4 linked regions of the Homo sapiens genome follow. The protein of the gene in region 3 purifies or fractionates together with the protein of the main gene of each other region. This does not show direct contact. Each region holds a gene or a part of one and is shown on either strand. Other genes may lie near its edges.

Region 1 (4,572 bases), on a different chromosome or scaffold from region 3:
GCCGGCTGCGCCCCCGACAGCGGAGTGACCTTGCTCAGCCGTCGCCCACTCGGTTTTCCCAGTCTGTCTGTTGGAGGGAAGGGGAGCTAGGCCGTGGGCATACGAGGGCGGCTGGGTCTCAGGCTGGGCTTTGGGCTGTAGCGCGGAGCGGGGCCGAGCTAGGAGTCCTCAGGCCGGCAATGAATGAACCCCGGCCGCCCCAGCCCGGGCAGCGGGGAACTGGGACAAAGGGGGCGGGCCTGCCCTGGAGGGACGCTGCCAGGAACACGACCCGCCCCTCGGAAACTCCCTCGCTCCCCGCGGACTCCCCGGCCCCTCGCGAGCCCACCCGGCCCTTCATTCCGTCTCCCGAACCTGCTCGGGTTCCCGCGCCCCACGCTTGCTGCAGAGGCACCGCCTCCTACGCCCGAGCCGCGGGCCCTTTAAGTGCTGACGGCCCACTCCGGCCCCGACCCCGCCCCTCCACGCCCCCAAGGAAACATGTCACTCGGGTTACGGCCACTACGGGGAGGGCGGGAGGACAAAAGGCCTCCGCGCTGTGACGAAGACTGCGCAGCGCGCGCCCGCGGAAGGCGGAAGTGGGCGGTGCCACCCCGCGAGAGGCGCCGCCGGCGCCAGGTCCCAGTAGCGGGTGGGTCCTTGCCGGTGCCCCGGGTCCCCGCGCTAGCTCGTCCCAACCCCTGGAAGAGGGCTGCGCTTCCGAGGGGGCAGGGGGCAGAGGGTAGGGGGCCCACGCCTCCGCCCCACTCTGACCCGCAGGTTTTCAGACTTGCCGGTGTGTGCCAAACCATGAATTCAAAATCTTGAACTACCCGATCCCACGGGACTAAGGCAGGAGGGGGTCGCAGGGGGCCTGGTGCTGGAAGTCCAGTTTGCAAATAAACCAAGGAGCTGGAGGAAGCTGTCAGGCCACACTAGCGGTTCCAGCGCTCTTGGCTCTCAGCCCCCACCTGCCGGGAAGGGTCGGTCTGCACTCTGCCTTCCACGACGGCAGGTTAGAAAATGATTGTTTGTTTACAATGAAAAGTAGTAGAGCTAGAGAATAATATGCACAAAATGTGACATCCTGCGTGATGAAACCAGAGCAAAGGAGCCCTAAATGCAGGAGCGCACAGGTGTCCGCGCAGCCGGGAATCAGCCAGCGCCTGCCCGCAGAGTCCAGGGAACCGACAGGTGAGCGCTCCCGGGCCCGGGAGCGCCAGGGAGAGGCCGGGCCACCGAGGCCCAAAGCAGCAAGTGTGTCCTCAGGGGAGCTTGTGCAATAGCCCCAGTCACAGAGGCAAAGCTCAGAAACAACCCCGTCGGGTGTTCTGGCCAGCAACTGCCGCAAGCAGCCTCCTGAGTAAGCCCAAAACCACTGATTTCCAGTCACTATGGATTTGGGGCTCAGGTGGGGAAACAGGGAGGAAATCCAAAGATTAATAAACTAGTTCATAGTCTCCATTTTCCTCTCAGAGTGCAACATGGTAAAGTATTTTACTCCCCCACGCGCATGTATACACACAGCTGCACAACCGAATGCTGGAATTATGATGTGCCATTCAACCTTTAATTACATAAGCTGTTTTCAAAAATCACATTCAGCGTGGAGATTTTCCAGAGATGCTGGAGTTGGCAGACGGCCACCACGTAGCTCTCCACTTTCCACAAATGGCCTCTGCCAGCTTGGGAAGAACCTCCATGACCTGTGTCCTGAGAAGTCAGAGAGCAAGGGCCCCACGGCCATGGCAGGGTGGAGCCGTGTAGAGGGTGGCCAGGTGGCCAGCTCGCGGATTCCATCCAGAGAGGAGACTCAAGGATCATGCTAAGTAGGGAACGGGGTTCCCACACGTCCTCAGGCATTCAACTCCTGGGCCAGGGTCCGTAACAAAGGGAGACTTCAGCCCTCAAAGCCTCTCACTCCTCAGGTCTGGGCAGGAGGTCCTTCTGCCAAGCAGCTCCTCCTGCCCTTCGCCTGCTTTCTGCCAGGAGAGACCTCTGTGTAGAGCTGGCTATGAGGTACCTGCACCATTTAACCTATTCTCATTTCCATGTCCCCATCCATGAATCATCTGTGTGTGCCCCTATTTCCACATCATCCCCAGGGCTTCAGGTGGGCAAGGGGCTCAGAGTTTACAGGTAGCCTGAGCCACTTTGGAGCTAGTTTTTCTGTTCAGGGCTTGACAGATAAAGTTTCCAGCTTCCAGAAGCTTCTGGAGATTCACACCCTTTGAGAAACAAGTTAGAGGATGCGGTAAGTCATGGTATGCCCTCAACACCAGGGAAAACATCAGCATGGACAGACAACTGTGATACTGAAAAGTAAAGGTGAAGATAAACAGGCTTTTTCCTTGACAGCGGGGCACCAGCTGCCTGTGAGCTCCTGTCTGTCTGGCACCTGGGTTATTCCTCTGACTCCCCCTCATGTAAGATGCCCAATCTCTGTCATGGTTTGTAGTGCCACTACCAGGGCACAGATCTTATCAGTCTTGTTCAGTACTCCCTCTTCAGGGCCCAGCACAGGGCCTGGCCCACAGAGGTAAAAAACTGATATTCAAGTGACAATTGTGAGGCAGAGAGGGAGGGATAAAAACACCAACTGAAAGGGCCAGACAGAAACCCTCTGTTCATACAGTAGCTCATATTTGCTGAAGTGCACTCTGTGCTCAGCTCTGTGATAAGCATTCTACATAACTTTTCTTTCTTTTTTTTTTTGGAGACAGAGTTTGCTCTTGTCGCCCAGGCTGGAGTGCAATGGCACGCTCTCAGCTCACTGCAACCTCTGCCTCCCGGGTTCAAGTGATTCTCCTGCCTCAGCCTCCCGAGTAGCTGGGGTTACAGGTGTGTGCCACCACACCCAGCTAATTTTTCTTTTCTTTTTTTTGAGAGGGAGTCTCACTGTGTCGCCAGGCTGGAGTACAGTGGCGTGATCTTGGCTCACTGCAACCTCTGACTCCTGGGTTCAAGCAATTCTCCTGCCTCAGTCTCCCGAGTAGCTGGGATTACAGGTGCGTGCCACCACACCCAGCTAATTTTTGTATTTTTAGTAGAGATGGGGTTTCACCATGTCGGCCAAGCTGGTCTCGAACTCCTGACCTCAGGTGATCTGCCCACCCTGGCCTCCCAAAGTGCTGGGATTACGGGCGTGAGCCACCGTGCCCAGCAATTTTTCTATTGTTAGTGGAGACAGTGTTTCACCATATTGGCCAGGCTGGTCTCAAACTCTTGACCTCAGGTGATCCACCCGCCTTGGCTTCCCAAAGTGCTGGGATTACAGGCGTGCGCCTGGCCCTCTACGTACGTTTTCTTACTTAATCCTCACAATGGCTCCATGAGATGGATGGCATTATTATTCCCATTTCTTAGGTTCAGAGAGATGAAATAATTTGTCTGAGGTCTCATAGCCTGGGAGTGGCAGGAGTAGGCTTTAAACCCAGTTCCATCTGATCTTTAAGCACAGATGCTATTCTGCTTCCGTCCCGCCACTGAGGGCCCTGGTGGACTCTGGCGGATCCCTGGTGAGCTGTCTAACGCTACTGTCCTCATTTTACAGAGAACAAAACAAAGCCAAGAGAGAACTGACTCATTTCAGGTCATGAACCTGACCCTTCCCAGGGCCCCTTCCATGTTCCTGGTGTCTCCTAGGACTGAACTGTCAAAGTCACCCTGACACTCCAGCCTTCTTATGCCCATGCGTGTGGCCTCACTCAACCCTACTCTCACAAACATTAAAATATTAGATCAAATATCCATAATCCCCAACACCCTTCCCCTCTTTTGTTTTGTTTTGAAGAGATAGGGTCTTGCTGTTTCACCCAGGCTGGAGTACACTGGCAGGATCATAGCTCACTGCAGCCTCAAACTCCTGGGCTCAAGTGACCCTCCTGCCTCAGCCTCCCAAAGTGCTGAGATTACAGGCATGAGCCACTGCGCCTGGCTAACCCTTTCCCTCTTTACTCCTCAGCACCTTAACAACCCCAAATACCCCCATCCACTTTTGTTCTCAGCTTCAGGCCCCCTGGTCAGTTCGGGGCTGTCGCCACCAGGGGGTGGGTGGGCTTACCGTGTGAATGCCCAAGCCCTCTAGCATGTAGACCAGGTCTTCTGTGGCCAAGTTTCCTGATGCCCCCTGTGCGTAGGGACAGCCTCCAAGTCCTGCCACAGAAGAGTCCACGACACTCACTCCCATCTAGAAACATAAGGATGGTGAAACACAGTTGTTGCTGGGGACAAGAGGCCACAGAGATGAGCCTTGCAAACCTCCCAATCGTCTGTTGCCTGAAATTCTAGAGTCATTCTTTGCTTTGGCTTATGATTCTGTTGACATGACAATCCCACAGAAAGAGACAGTGCTTCTCCTTTTAGTTTCTGTTAAACTGTTTCCTCTGCCAGCAGTATCTTTCCTTTCATGGTGAACTCTCATTCTTTAGGTTCCAGTCTGAAAGCCACCTGCTCAGGGAGACCTTTTCTGATCACCAGCCTAACCCCCTCCCACTGCTGAGATTTCAGACCCCTGTTGTTTACTGTGATTCATTTATTACCCCCCCCCCACTTACCCCCCACCACCTCCAGGCTACTCTCACTCAGTCAGGG
Region 2 (4,572 bases), about 99 Mb from region 3:
AGCATCCTGGCTATGTGGCAGTTAATGGGCAATCTCTCCCAGGTTCCCAATGGGAGAAAGACATGCTCAGACACAGCCTCTGGAGCAAGTCCCAGGATGCATGGATCTAAAAGCTGCTCATCTGTCTACATTAGCCTCCCCATTGGCTCTCAGGGGATTCCAACTAAGGCTCAAATCCCATCTTTGTGTCTTCTTCTGAAGATTTTACAGAAAACCTTTTCTCATACCTAGGGAAAAACATTCTTAGGTCTTAAAGAGGGGTGCCAGGGGCAAGACCACTTTGCTAAGAGAAAGAATCATTCCACCTAACAGTAATAGGGAGAAAAAGACACTGCAGTTCCAACTGGGAGGGAAGTCTCAACAAAGAGAAGGAATCCATGCACTTTTCCAGCTGCCACTAGGAGTGGGTTCCACAGGCCAATGAAGAGACTCCCTCAAGCTACTGACAACAAGCAACGTGTGGCCATCCTGTGTGTGTGCTCACAAGCAGGAGGAAGGCTTATTTTTCTTAAGTGTTTAAGTAGTCTATGTAGGATCAAAGCTCTGTTTTTGTTTTTTTTTTTCCTTTCTAGGGTCTAAAGTCAGGCAATAAATACAAGAATATTTGGAAGTTTTTATTTTTATCATACAATGAGACTATCTTTCCTACCTTGGCTTCCTAGTATAAAAAGCTATTTGAAAATTTATATTCAATGTAATTTTTGTTGAGGCCTTTATTGGAAAAAAAATTGTAGCATTTTTTTGAGGAAGAAAAACACATAATGTGAACAGAGCTATAACTGCTGAATTAAAGAAAAACTATGTTGCATTTATTTCTTAGTAAAAGATTTTGCAAGAAAGGTCTGAGGCCCCACTTAGGTCCGCCCTGCAAGTCAACACATCCTGGGTTTGCTCCGACTGAGCTCCTCATGGTCCCCTTGCTTGACAAAGAATTCAGCCTGGTGATGGCAGCTCCGAAGGCAGCTCCTGCAGGGCAGTTATTTCCTGACCTTGTGAATCTGAGTCAGTGCAAAAGGTAAGCACCCTGAAATCAAACCCGAAGACTCACTTTCACCTTACCCCCAAGCAGCATGAACGAAGATGACTGTGTTCTTGACCCCAGCTGGGAAAGTTTTCCAGATGGACTTGAACTCCATTAAGGGAAGACGTGCTTGGCACAGTGGGCCGGCTCTTCACGGCCCTGGCTGCACATCCAAGGGAAAGAGCGGCTTTGGTGGAACCCACAGCCAACCCCTAGCTCCACAGCAGTTACCAAGGTAATGTTGGGTTTGCAGAATTTGGGGTTCTAATCATTCACGGATTGCCTGCACTGTCATAACTGGCAGAAGATCCTAAGTAATGAACTGGTAGGACAACAACCACAAAAGCACAGGCTCCACCCTTACCCTGAGATAGTGCATGAGTTCCCGCAAAGCTGGGATCTTATTTTTCTCCAGCACAGTCTTCAGGGAGATGATAATTGGAATAATATTTTCTATGAAATTCCTCTTCTGAACCTGGTAACACAAACAAAGACATGTTTTAGATGTATGAACTTCTGAAAGACAGGCCTCTCCTTGATCTAGTTCTTTGAGTAGAGCCACCCTACCACACTATGTAAGTTTATTTTTGCTTTTCATTATGATACTGGATGTAGAGGACCTCTGCTTTTCTCTGGGAGACTTTGTAAGCATTACCTCAAAACACTCTGAAGGCTTTGTAAGATAGGGTGGGGACAAATACTACTCATATATTCTAAATGGGGAAAAAGAATTAGAAACATGTTGAGTAGCTTTTGACAAAAGCCCCAAATCTCCACAGAAGACCCTGAGGGACCTTGGCTCTTGCTCCACCTTCAGTCCTCAATTCAACACCCTCCCCTTGGAACAGAAGTCAGCTCGTTCTGGCTACCCAGAGGGACACTTCGTATTCCTGCTGGTGAAGGGACAATGGTCTAAAAATGGCTAAGCATGAAGACAGCCAGCTCTGTCTCTCTCTCTGTGTACACATCTACAAAATACTATGAATTTATATATATAGTACCTGATTTGACCAAGTCTTCACACTTTACCTTGAATGATCACTAACCACAAATATTCTCCAGTGAATCTCTTTAAATTAAAAAAAAAGCACTATAGTAGCCCACATATGCAAGATTTATCCTCCTGAAGCTGAAACTACTCTTTTCCTTCTCATTTAAAGTCACTAGTGTATGTTTCTTCCTTGTAAACTACTCATTTCTAAAAAGTCTTATCAGAGTTCCTGAAACAGAAGGACAACAAGTAGAGAAATAAGCAATTTAATAAACCCAGATGTGAGCAGATGTTATGTTCAGGAATAGTCTTAAGAAGTGGCTTCCATGCATTCACTTGACAAGTATTATCAAGCACCTTCTCTGTCCAGGCAAAGAGCTAACCCTCTGAGGATGCAAAATGAAGCTAAGCATCCCTGCCCTCCAGCCACTTCTAGAAAGTGTGTGTCTCAAGGGAAGAGGTGTTAAGTGGCAGGGTGTTAGGGAATTTAGGTATGGAGATGGGATGCCTAAGGAGTGCATGGCCATCTGATGGATGATCCTGAGGATGTGTGGAGAAGGGAGGATGGGTGGGTGAGGGCGCTGCAGACTTTAGACCCAGAGGCAAGAGCACACGAGTAGGGGGCAGCTCGCAACTGAGGTGCAGATGGCAATTTGAAGTGGAGAGGTTAGAGGTGAGGATGGAGGGAGGTATGGGAAAGGTGGAAGGCACACCAGAAGTTCTTGTTTACCTTGAAAAAGAAGAATCAGGGTTTATTCAGAAGATGACAGGAAGCCACCAGCATAGTTTTTAAAGATTTCACTAGTGAAGTATAACATATGTAATAAATTTACCCATTTTAAACAAACACTTCCATGAGCTTTGACAAAAGTCTATATGGAATAACCAGCACTACAGACCACTCACCATCTATCACCCAAAAGCTTCCTGCCACCCCTCACAGTCAACCTGCCTTTAGTCTGTTTCAGATATAATAAAATGATCAAATTTGTACTTAAGAAAGACTGCTGGGCTGGGTGTGGTGGCTCATGCCTGTAATCCCAGCACTTTGGAAGGCCGAGGCGGGCAGATCACGAGATCAGGAGATTGAGACCATCCTGGCAAACACTGTGAAACCCCATCTCTACTAAAAATACAAAAAAACTAGCCGGCCGTGGTGGCTGGTGCCTGTAGTCCCAGCTACTAGGGAGGCTGAGGCAGGAGAATGGCATGAACCCAGGGGGGCAGAGCTTGCACTGAGCAGAGATCGTACCACTGCACTCCAGCCTGGGCAACAGTGTGATACTGTGTCTCAAAAAAAAAAAAAAAAAAAAAGTTAGCCAGGCACAGTGGCAGGGGCCTGTAGTCCCAGCTACTCGGGAGGCTGAGGCAGGAGAATGGCGTGAACCTGGGAGGCGGAGCTTGCAGTGAGCTGAGATCGCGCCACTGCACTCCAGCCTGGGCGACGCAGTGAGATTCTGTCTCAAAAAAAAAAAAAAAAAAAAAGAAAAAGAAAGAAAGACTGCTCTGGCAGCAAGGTGGTACATGGCCTGTGACAGAAAGAAACCAGAAACAGAAAGGGTGGTAAGGAAACCATGGAAATGGGATAAGCTTAAATAAGGTCAGAACTAGAGAGATAGATTGGTAAGAGAAAACAGGCAGGATCTTGTGGCAAGATATGATCAGAGTCTATATCCTTGGAGTCAAAAGCCTCCAGAGGCCAGGTGGGAAATACACATTGGCAATCCAGGCTAGGAGGAAAACACAGGCCTGCAGAGGCCTGTGGCAGCCAAGCTCTGCCCCAGTCATTCAGATCCAAATTCTACACTTCCTGCCAACAAAAGCCTCAGCCTGACACACCAGACTCCAGTCTGCAAGAGCACCATAAACTGTGGGAGAAAGAGGAGATGAAGAGCAGAAAGAAGAGATGACTGAGGGAGTTTTGACAGAGTAAGTCAGAGACACCCGGAGCACGTCCTGGCAGCAGGGGGACCTGAGCTCAGGCTCATGAGAAATGCTGGAGTGGGAAACAGGTTTGAGAATTGTCACCATCTGGCAAGAGTTAAAGCCATCAGTAAGAAAGAAGTCAGCACCAGAGCATGGCACCAGGATTCCAGGGAGAACACGGAAGCCAGTAGATGGTGAGAAGAGTGGGACACTCACTTGTGAAATGAGCTTAGGGGAGCTGCACACTCACTTGTGACATGAGCTTAGGGGAGCTGCACACTCACTTGTGACATGAGCTTGAGGGAGCCGCATAATCACTTGTGACATGAGCTTGGGGGAGCTGCACACTCACTTGTAAAATAAGCTTAGGGGAGCTGTACACTCACTTGCGACATGAGTTTAGGGAGCTTCACACTCACTTGTGACATGAGCTTGGGGGAGCTGCACACTCGTGAAATGAACTTAGGGGAACTTCACACTCATGAAATGACCTTAGGGGAGCTGAACACTCACGTGTGACATGAGCTTGAGGGAGCTACATACTCACTTGTGACATGAGCTTAGGGGGAGCTGCACACTCACTTGTGAGATGAGCTTAGGGGGAGGGGCACACTCACTTGTGACATAAGCTTAG
Region 3 (5,644 bases):
CAAGGACTCTGGCCAGTCGTATACCAATGACTTAAATTTAGCACAAAATAGTGAATGTAACTAAAAATTGCAATCAGCGAGCAGAGCCAGTTTGACTTATAAATTCTAATATTCATTGATATTTTCACATCCAAGTGTTAACTGGAATGTGTGTTGCCTTTTCCTTAGAAGTACTCCCAATATTTTGGTCATTTTTTCTGTTCAAACAAGAAACAAAAATGAAGAGGCAGAAATTTTTTTTATATCCTCTCAGTGTGATACCTATCTATTTTAAATAAATTAGTAGTATAATGTGGAAGGGGCCTGGTAGTGTAGCACACAGTTCAAACCAAGTATACCATACTCCTTTCTCAGTGTTATTCTTTGATCTCAAACTACAACAAAATTCTTTTTAGAAATGAAAACTTCCTTAATCTAAACCACCTCATCAGTATAGAAATACCAGAGACAATATTTTTGGTCAGAATGAACAAGCATTTGTACCAGAAGCTGAGAAGTCAAACCATGAGAGGCAGGTGATTATATGAAAAGCCTGGTTGTGAGGTCCATGAATTAAAACATCTTAAATTTATACAGCGATTTCCCTTGTACAGTTCAACTCTCTAAGGCAGGCTGAGTAAATATTAATGCCCATTTCACCTATAGGGAAACAGATGCACTACTGCTTATGTACGTCAGTTCATGAAAAGCAGAACTCTGAGTCAGGCTTATTTATGGCTGCCTCATCATGTTCTGTTCCTCAGATATAAAAATTAAAATGAACAAACAAACAACAACCACAACAAAAACAACGGCCTAGCACAGTAGCTCATGCCTGTGTAATCCCAGCACTTTGCGAGGCCAAGGTGGGTCGACTACTTGAGCCCAGGAGTTTGGGACCAGCCTGAGCAACATGGCAAGACCCTGTCTCTAAAAAAAAAAAATAGAAAAATTAGCCAGGCATGATGGTGCATGCCTTTAGTCCTTAGCTACTCGGGAGGCTGAGGGAGGAGGATCACTTGAGCCTAGGAGGTCGAGGTTGCAGTGATCTGTGATCCCAGCACTGCACTACAGCCTGGGCCACAGAGCAAGACCCCATCTCAAGAAAAAGTAGTAATAATAATAATAATTTCGATTAAAACTGACCTTGGAAATAATGTAACATAAAAATTATTTTGAAAATAGCCTTTGGTTATAATTTTCAGTGTAACTGTTAATATGACAAAAGTTTTGAAGACTATTTTTTTTAAATGGCTTGTTAAACTGAGTTGGATAGTTGGATTAAGCATTTTCTTAACAATTAATACACCAGGGTGCTAATTATTTTAGAAGGCTCTTCTGTTAGGGTTTATAATTCATCATGTCATACCATACAACTTGTACTATATTAGCCTTTCTTCTATTGATTCATGTCAGCTGACACTAACATAAACCTTTTTGTGACAAGTTAATTAAATTACCATTCATTACCATCCAACTTAAATATAGTTATCTTGACAGTTATAGCAGAGCTGCCAAAAGAGAGAAACAAACTCTTCTAAACTTTATAATAATTAGTGAAAATTTCATATTAGTGAAATAAAAAGGATAGTTCTCATCTGTTTGGCTTCATAAGTCTTCTATTCTCTTTCCAAAGTTTTACATTTCCTATCAGTTACTTTCCTAATGTCATACTAATTTTAAATTCCGTCTTTTCTCCTGTAGAGCCCTTTTAAAGGTGTTCTAGAAAAACTACTAATCAACTTCAAGGTTTATTGAACTTTTGTGTTTTAACATTTAAAATACAATAGAAATGTTTATATTTTCTCACATTTTACTGCACAATACAAAACTGATTTAAATGCATTAAGAAACAACATTTTGTTTTTAAATAAACACTAACAAAATGTTTGGCAAGAGATAACACAATTTATTTAAATATATTCCGACTCAAGATGAAGGCAAGCGGTTTACCTAGAAAGGTTTACATATTTTAGCTATAGTTTTTCATTGAACCATTTTTTTGAAATGTCATTCTTTTCATTCATGCTTCTTTTATCCTCTTGCTTTAGAAGTTCACAGTGTTATATAAGTGAAAAACAAGACAGATAGAAACCACCCTAAACATATGGCTTTATGTACATAAAAAATTCAATAATGTTGCCATAACCCCTAATACAGTGTGATCCTTATTTATTTATTATCCAGAATAAACTTCTGTACCTATTAAATTCTTCAAGTATATCTAGAGCAGTGCTTGTAAAAGTGAGGTCCCACTGCTAAGTTAATGGCCATCTCTTTGAAGATCACTTCTACCTTCAACATAATTATGGTACAGTTCTAATAGTTTTTTTAATTTTACATGTATCATACATTCTCAAATATTCCAAAATGCTCAAATGAGCCAAACATATACTTTGATTTACATCTAGTTTAATATTCCCTTTATACAGCACCAGAGGTTAAAAATGGATCTGAGTAACCAAATATTCTCTTTCCTTTATTAGTTAGAGTTTATCATCATTTATTTCTATAACATTAAACCCAAATTGAAGATGAAGACACCCTGGGTCAAATGCTTTCACCTTAAATAAATAAACATTTCATCCACTTCATACTTAAATACCAAGTTGTTTTCCTATAACATATGTTTCTTGGTAACAACTACTGAATCAACTAAGCTGAACACCAACTTCTTATCTTTGAGGACTAGGCAAGTCGGATAGGATTCTCTAGGTTTGCTTTAAAACTTTTAAGAAACCTGGTTGCCAGTTCGTCATCAACCACTCGACTGTCACTTGACATTGTGACTGTTATGAGCTGGCGCTGCTGCAGTTTGGCATTTCCCTCTTCATCCTCAGTGAGCTTCAGCACAGGTCGGAACCTCCCAACCGCCAAAATGCAGGCCTGAGGAGGGTTAATCACTGCAGTAAATTCGTCGATGCCAAACATCCCCAAGTTGGAAATACTAGGGGGAAAAGAAAAAGCTCTGAAGGAGGCATGTCCTTAATCAAAGTCCCCTTTCCGTGAAGCACATATTTTATATATTTTACTAGGCAGTGTAGTAAGGCAAGAAAAAAATATATGAGTAATGAAAAAAGGAAACATTTAGTATTTACAAATAAATTAATTGTGTACACAGGAAAAATGAGACTATAGATAACTAGTAAAATTAATAAGTAAATTTAGTTAAGTCATCAGATAAAAGGTCAATATAACAATCCATTTTATATCGAGTCATGTCCCACATAACGAAGGATCACATATACAACGGTGGTCTTATAAGATTATAATGGAGCTCAGGAATTTCTGCTGCCTAGTGGCATCATAGCTGTCATAACATCATATTGCAATTACTTTATTTTAAAAATAAATTTAGTGTAGCCTAAGTGTGCAGTGTTTATAAAGTCTACAGTAGTGTATAGTGATGTCCTAAGCATTCACTCATTCACTGATTCTTCCAGAGCAACTTCTAGTCTTGCAAGCTCCATTCACGGTAAGTGCCCTAAACAGGTGTACCATGTTTTACTTTTTACATTTTTACTGTACATTTTAAAAATGCTTAGATATGTTTAGATACCCAAATACTCATCATTGTGTCACAACTGCTTACGGTATTCAGTAGAGTAACATGCTGTATAGGTTTGCAGTCTAGGAGCAACTGGCTATATCATACAGCTAAGGTGTGTAGCAGCATGTACCATTTAGGTTTGTGTAAGTACACTCTATGATGTTTGCATGATTTGCGTAAGTACACTCTATGATGTTTGCATGATGAAACTGCCTAACAATGCATTTCTCATATCCCCATCATAAAGTGGCACATGACTCTACATACAAGTTGCTATAATTAGAAAATAAAAATTTAAAACAATACCATTTATAATAGTATCAAAAAACAAATACCAAAGAATAAATCTAATGAAACATATACAAGACCTCTACACAGAAAATTATAAAACATAACTGAAAGAAATCAAATAACTGAATACACAATGGTTTCTACCATATTCACAGGTTAGAATACTCAATACTGTAAGGATGTCAATTCTCAAATCATCAAAAGACTTAATGCAATCCCAATCAAGAAACCAGCAAGGGGTGTGTGTGTGAAAAATGGCAAATCAATTTTACAATTTATTTGGAAATACGAAAAGCCAGAAGACAATCTTGAGGGTGAACAAAATTGGAAGACTTCATTACCAGCTATCAAGAGTTATAGCTTGGTGGTAGTAAACAAAGGATAGACAAACAGGCCAGTGGAAAAAAAATAGCACAGAACTAGACCAACACATATATAATCACCTTTTCAATGCTATGAAAAAGGAGAAATCAATATTCAATACATGATGCTGTGTAAATTTAGTATCCATATGGGGAAAAAAGAGCACTTGAAACTTCACATTATATACAAAATCCAATTTCAGTTGAATTGTGATCTACATGTGAAAAGTAACGTAAATGCTTTTAGAAGATAACACAGAAGAGTAACTTCATGACTCTGAGATAGGCAAAAATTCCTAACAGAAAATGAACAGTACCAACTACAAAGAAAAATACTGATAAATAGGAATTCATTAAAACTCAGAACTTCCGTTCATTTAAAAAAATCACCGAGAGAGTCCCAAAGGCAAGTCACAGAGTGTGAAAGCTATTTGAAACAATATATATCCTATAAAGGTCTGTATATCCAGAAATAAGAACTATACATCATTTTTTTAAATGGACACCAGATTGCAGTGGGTACTTTATCTCATGAATTACCAGATACCCAAACGGCTGATGAGTGAAAAGTACTCAACATCACTAATTTGCATTTTCCTACAAAGAGTACCACTACACACCCCAAGAATTGTTAAAATTTAAAACCTAACATTATTAAATAGTGGCAAGAATGTGGAGCAATGGGAATTCTCAGGACCGTTGGTGGAGGTGTAAATTTGTATAACCATTTGGAAAATTGTTTGGTAGTAGCTGCTAAAGCTTCTAACTTAGGAATTCTACTTTTAGGTCTATACAACAAAAAATGTACATACATTCACTATAAGACACTAATAAGAATGTTCATAGCACCATAATTTGTAATAGCCCCGAACTGGAAGCAACGCAAATGCCCACCAACAGTAAAATGAATTCTGGTATATTTATACAATAGAATATTATATGCTGCAATAATAAATAAGTGGTTGTTTCACATAGCAATATAATATTACAGACATTAATATTGGGGGTGGGTCAGATACTAAAGAATACATAATATTTATCATTCCATGTTAGTCAATGTCCAACGAACGTTTAGTTCAACACTAATAGGTTCCTACTAGCTTTAATATGAAAGCCTGACTAGTCTGAAGAATTTTTTCAGATATTCTATTGTCTAAATAAAGTATTTTTAGCTTAAATTTTAAAAAATATTTCAGATAAATGAAAGGCTGACAGGGACTTTATAAGTCTTACATCTATCTGTTTGATGCTATGGATAATTAAGAGTTTAAATTTTACCTAAAAGATCCTCCTTGGTATTCTTCAGGCAACAATTTTCCATCTCTTGCTTTCTTTGATAGAGCCTGAGAAAAATACAAACAGAATAGGACAACCAACAAAATGTTATACAGTTGATCTTGTCACTTGAAATATTTGTACATCATATACTCTCATCTCTGATATGCCTTGATTTGATTTTGTT
Region 4 (4,572 bases), on a different chromosome or scaffold from region 3:
TTCTAACGTAGCCTAACCACTCTTAAAGTCACCTTAACTGAAATTCCTAAATGAGGAAGTGGCTTGGATACTAATTTTTATAACCTACCTCAGAGGGTGTCTTAGCTGAAGTACCAGATGTTGGTGCAAGATCCACATATGCATTTGAAATGACAATGTCTCCAGTTTCTTGGACCTTAGGAGGAGAAGAAAAAAAAAAGATTTATTCTGATTACAATGGAAGTGTAATTTCACTGTGAAACAGTACAAAGTTTAAAATTTATTATTTTTGCCTCATATGAAAAAGAATATAATAATCCAGATAAAATAAAAGGCTGCTAAAGTAAATGTCAAGATGAACAAACATAAAGGCTTTCTGATTTAATACAACTGTTACTAAACCTGGCTTTATAATCAGCTGGAGCCCTTTAAAACAAACAAACAAAGAAACCCTATGAGGTCCCATCCCCCAAAATTCTAATGTAAATACACTGATAGAGACTGGGCCTTGGTATTTTGGGCATTTTTTGGGGGGGAAGTGGGGATCAGGGGATGCACTCTTATAAACAGAATTCAGTCCATGCTGAATCCTTATAAATAGTAAAAGGCATAGCACAATAGCCACATGAGGTAATGGTACTCAAAGTACATTTGTTCTGCTAATATAGAATAAAATTGGCTAGGAACAAATCATAATAGTGTTTTTTAAGTAGTAATTCCAGGTCTTATTTCAAGAGGAAGTGTACACAGCATGAACTAAATGTCTAAATAGGCTTTTATCAAAATAGTCATTAAAGGAATTCAAATTCTAATTCCCAGTCCTTCATTTCAAATTATTCCAATGGCTATTCTTTCATAAAAATTGTTATTGCTACAAATGTATAGGATAAGTTTCTAAAGTTTAACATAGCGTTTATTAAAACTTTGATTTTTAACAATCAAGAAGATCATTCTCTTGACTACATCTCATCATATTTTGGAGGAAAAAAGATCTTTCAAGTAATTTGTTCACTTTACTTCAAATTACATACATTGAAAAGCATGGAAAGAGATAATTAATGAACAAAATGCACTTCAGTAAATTACTTTATTGTTACCAAATCAAGCAAATCATTTTAAAACACTGGTTTAAAATGTTTCTTATATCTTAAGAATAGAAAGGAAAGGAGGAAGGGAGGGAGAAAGTGAGAAAAGGAGGCAGGGAGAGAAGGAGTCCTAAAACTAATAGAAAAAGAATATCTATAATCACTGAAGAAAAATATAGCAAATATGCTGAAAAGATAAGACAGCATGCTTAGAATTTAACAAAATGGCAAGAATACATTATATTTAGACATTTAATCATTTCTCAGCCCTTCAAGTTTGTATCCATAGAAATTATTTACATACTATTCATCACCAGAATTGCAGGAAAATAAAAACCTGTAATATAGTCATGGTCCTTAACACTTTTAGAGTTCATAATCTTAATCAAAAAGCAAAACTTACTCATACAAAACAAATTAGAAAATGTGAGGGCTCCAAAATATGTGGCACAGATATTAGCTGCAAAGGCTTTCAGAGAACACCAATTTGAGTGTATCTATGGGTAGGAAAGTGGGGAATAGTAAGAGACTGTCTCTAAGAGCAAAGTGGAGCTTGAACTTAAGCCTGAAGGACAGGAGGAATTTGAAAAGTAAAATAAACAATATGTACAAATTAAGCAGGAAAATGATATTGCAACCAGCAGAAAGGAATTAGGAGTAAAGCAACCATGTAAGAAGAATTTTGCAGTTATCTATTTGTGAAAGAAAACATGATACAGAAAAGACATTTGGGGCCTGTAATCAAAGCTTTGAAGCCATGCTGATCGGGTTTCTATCCCAGCTCAACCACTTGCTGTGTGACCATGAGCAAGTTATTTAGGACACCTAGATTAGATTTTCTTAGGAACCTAGATTTTCTTATATTTACATACAGATTTATTATGCATATTAAAGAAAATACTATTGCCAGTTTATAGGTTCTCAATAAATGAAAGCTGTTCCTATTATCATTGGAGTTGTTTAATATGCTCTATATAGCATGAAATGATCAAGCCAAAAAGTATTAGCCTGGTCAACTGTGTTAACAAAAACTGTCTTTTAATAACTTGCAAATAAAACAATGATTGCATGTCCTTTTAGTATTTTACTGGAGCATTGCTAACAGCCTCACCCCAAAATAACCTCATTTACTATTTGTTAGGCCCAGACTCTGTGATGTAACTTGTTAATTTGTGGATTTTTTGTGTAATCAAGATGCATATGATTTCTGTCCAGAGAAAACTCATAAAGGATAAGATTTTATTGTTCTATAGGATATTAACTAATTTTGTCTCTAACTCTGCAAAATTATTTTAGAATAACTTTCCTATTGGACCATATAAACTGTTGTTCTAATTTTTTTTCGAACATGTTTTATCATATTGCAAGATCCTTCATTAATGAGTCAGATAGATTTCTGTCATGTTTTCACTGTATATCTGTCTGAGTCATGCCTTTAAATTTTTTAAGATGATATTTTGACAATGACTTGATTGACTAGTTGAGCCAAAAAGACATGGTTGGCTGGGTTTTCAGAATAGCTGGGCCACTGCTACATAGATAGCTACCAATTTAGTTGAAAATAAAAGAGAAAATAAAACACAGGGTGCAAAACACTTCTATTTTATTAAGTGTTGCCTGATAAATAAAAATTTTGAAAACACCAGACAAGCTGTATCTTATTTTTAATTAAAATTTACCATTACTTAAAAAGAACTTTCTATCCATAGTACTAACCAAAAAAAAATGGTAAGATGGAACACAATGATAAAGCATGTGAGAAGGGTGAAAAAGCAAAATTCATACCTTGGTTTGAAAATGAATTCTGTTTCCTTCCTTCCACATCTCAGTTTGTAGAGTTTGTCCTGGATATACTGGTTTTGCAAAACGAGCCTTTAAAAAAGAATTGTGGGGTTAAAAATGTTTTAAAAGGAAACTCTTTTACTTGTAGGAGGAAAAAATTGGAAAGGAAACTAGAGAGCACAAAAGAAAAAAAAAATCAAGGTTTAAAGATATTTAAATTCATAAAAGACCTAAGTATAATATGATAAAATTAGTAAAATAAAGATGTAACTAATATAAGTAAGCCAATTCTTTGTCTTTCAAAGTATGGAATCAAAAAATAGTGTTTTTTATCTTGACAAATCAAGAAATAAAACCATAATCATATTAGGTGAGTTATATAGGTACATCAGAACAACTTAAAGAAACAGTTAAAAGTGGTACAAATTAAGTCTAAGGAATGAGGCCTGGGGTGAGTATGCAGGGCAAAATAATTCCACTTTTTATTTCATAATTTTTTATATTATTTTCTCTGTGTATATATTACTGGATAATAAAAAATAGTTGTAACAAAATGAAAAGCATGAGAGTAATTAGTGTTATCAAAGGCAATGCATCAGAAAATATATTTTCACTACTGCATGGAGGATAAATTAAAAGCTTTTGGAGCTATTTGACAACCCCTTAAACTTTTTTAAGTGTACATCTTTTGGCTTAAACATACACAAAAATAATATGGGCATGGATATTTTTCCTTGTTATTTATAATGGATAAAAATTTGAAATCAACTAAAAAGTACAGAGTTAAAACAATATGCAGTCATTATATTGCTGTAGATGTATGTTTATTGGACTTAATCAGCCACTTAACATTTTTAATTAAATTAATGAAAATGATAAAACAGTTAAAAAAAGCAAATCTTGAGTTTTCAAGGCATACGTACTGATATATATATATATAATATATGCACCTAATTAATTTATAAAGCAACCCAGTTAATCTGTCAAAATTGCAACTGTGCATCCTTCCTGGTGCATGTGCAACAGAGCTATTTATAGCTACAAAAAGAAAGTGTGCTGATTGCCAGGTCAATGAAATAATAAAAATGTACATTGCTGTAGTACAATATCTATTTTCAATTAAATCACTAAAACCCCTTTTCTTCTCTAAAGATAGAAAAAGGAAGTAATATTCAAATTACGTAGTAATACACATTTACCTTAATTGCCTTGAATCTTGACACATCATTATCTGCAAACTGCTGTAACACACGCCTGGCAGAAAATCCAAATGTACATAATCCATGTAATATGGGCTTGTCAAAACCTAGGAAAAGAGAGAACACTGAGTTAGATACAGGTACCTTTAAAGTTTAAAAATCAAGTGTAGTTAATTCAGGACTTTAAAAATGTCCTTAGACTGCATTAGCAGGAATTATACCATCTATTTTAAGAAACACAGTAGATATTTTTTAAAGAGTATTTCCTGGGAGGAAATTATGAAATAAAGAAAGAAAGAAAAAAAAAAAACAAAACAGGAAAAGAATGTGAGAGATCTGGAAACACAATTGTTTTGTTTAGTTTTGGTTGTAACCATGAAATCATCCAGGGTACTCTCAACATCCACACAGGTACATGATCCTTCCCTAACCTTTCAGTTCCTTGCTCTCTCTCCAATGACCTTGTCCTTTGTGATAACTCACACACCCACCCTCGTGGTCCTATCCTAGACCTCGCACTAGCGGGA

What was found. Proteins that work in one complex are often made in the same cells at the same time.
Region 1: the proteins of PDHX (region 3) and HMGCL purify together in Homo sapiens (co-immunoprecipitation; one large-scale study listed by IntAct). This does not show direct contact.
Region 2: the proteins of PDHX (region 3) and NCAPD3 purify together in Homo sapiens (co-immunoprecipitation; one large-scale study listed by IntAct). This does not show direct contact.
Region 4: the proteins of PDHX (region 3) and HSD17B4 fractionate together in Homo sapiens (co-fractionation; one large-scale study listed by BioGRID). This does not show direct contact.

What each region holds. Positions count from the first base shown.
Region 1 is NC_000001.11:23,800,358-23,804,929, forward strand, and holds the end of HMGCL (hydroxymethylglutaryl-CoA lyase, mitochondrial isoform 1 precursor), read right to left. Parts: intron 4,169-4,572; coding exon 4,043-4,168; intron 2,208-4,042; coding exon 2,106-2,207; 3' UTR 1,528-2,105; downstream 1-1,527. UniProt on the Homo sapiens protein: Mitochondrial 3-hydroxy-3-methylglutaryl-CoA lyase that catalyzes a cation-dependent cleavage of (S)-3-hydroxy-3-methylglutaryl-CoA into acetyl-CoA and acetoacetate, a key step in ketogenesis. Terminal step in leucine catabolism.
Region 2 is NC_000011.10:134,160,396-134,164,967, forward strand, and holds part of NCAPD3 (condensin-2 complex subunit D3), read right to left. Parts: intron 1,497-4,572; coding exon 1,386-1,496; intron 1-1,385.
Region 3 is NC_000011.10:34,992,196-34,997,839, reverse strand, and holds the end of PDHX (pyruvate dehydrogenase protein X component, mitochondrial isoform 1 precursor), read right to left. Parts: intron 5,526-5,644; coding exon 5,461-5,525; intron 2,927-5,460; coding exon 2,668-2,926; 3' UTR 1,712-2,667; downstream 1-1,711.
Region 4 is NC_000005.10:119,525,497-119,530,068, reverse strand, and holds part of HSD17B4 (peroxisomal multifunctional enzyme type 2), read right to left. Parts: intron 4,153-4,572; coding exon 4,046-4,152; intron 2,937-4,045; coding exon 2,850-2,936; intron 176-2,849; coding exon 89-175; intron 1-88. UniProt on the Homo sapiens protein: Bifunctional enzyme acting on the peroxisomal fatty acid beta-oxidation pathway.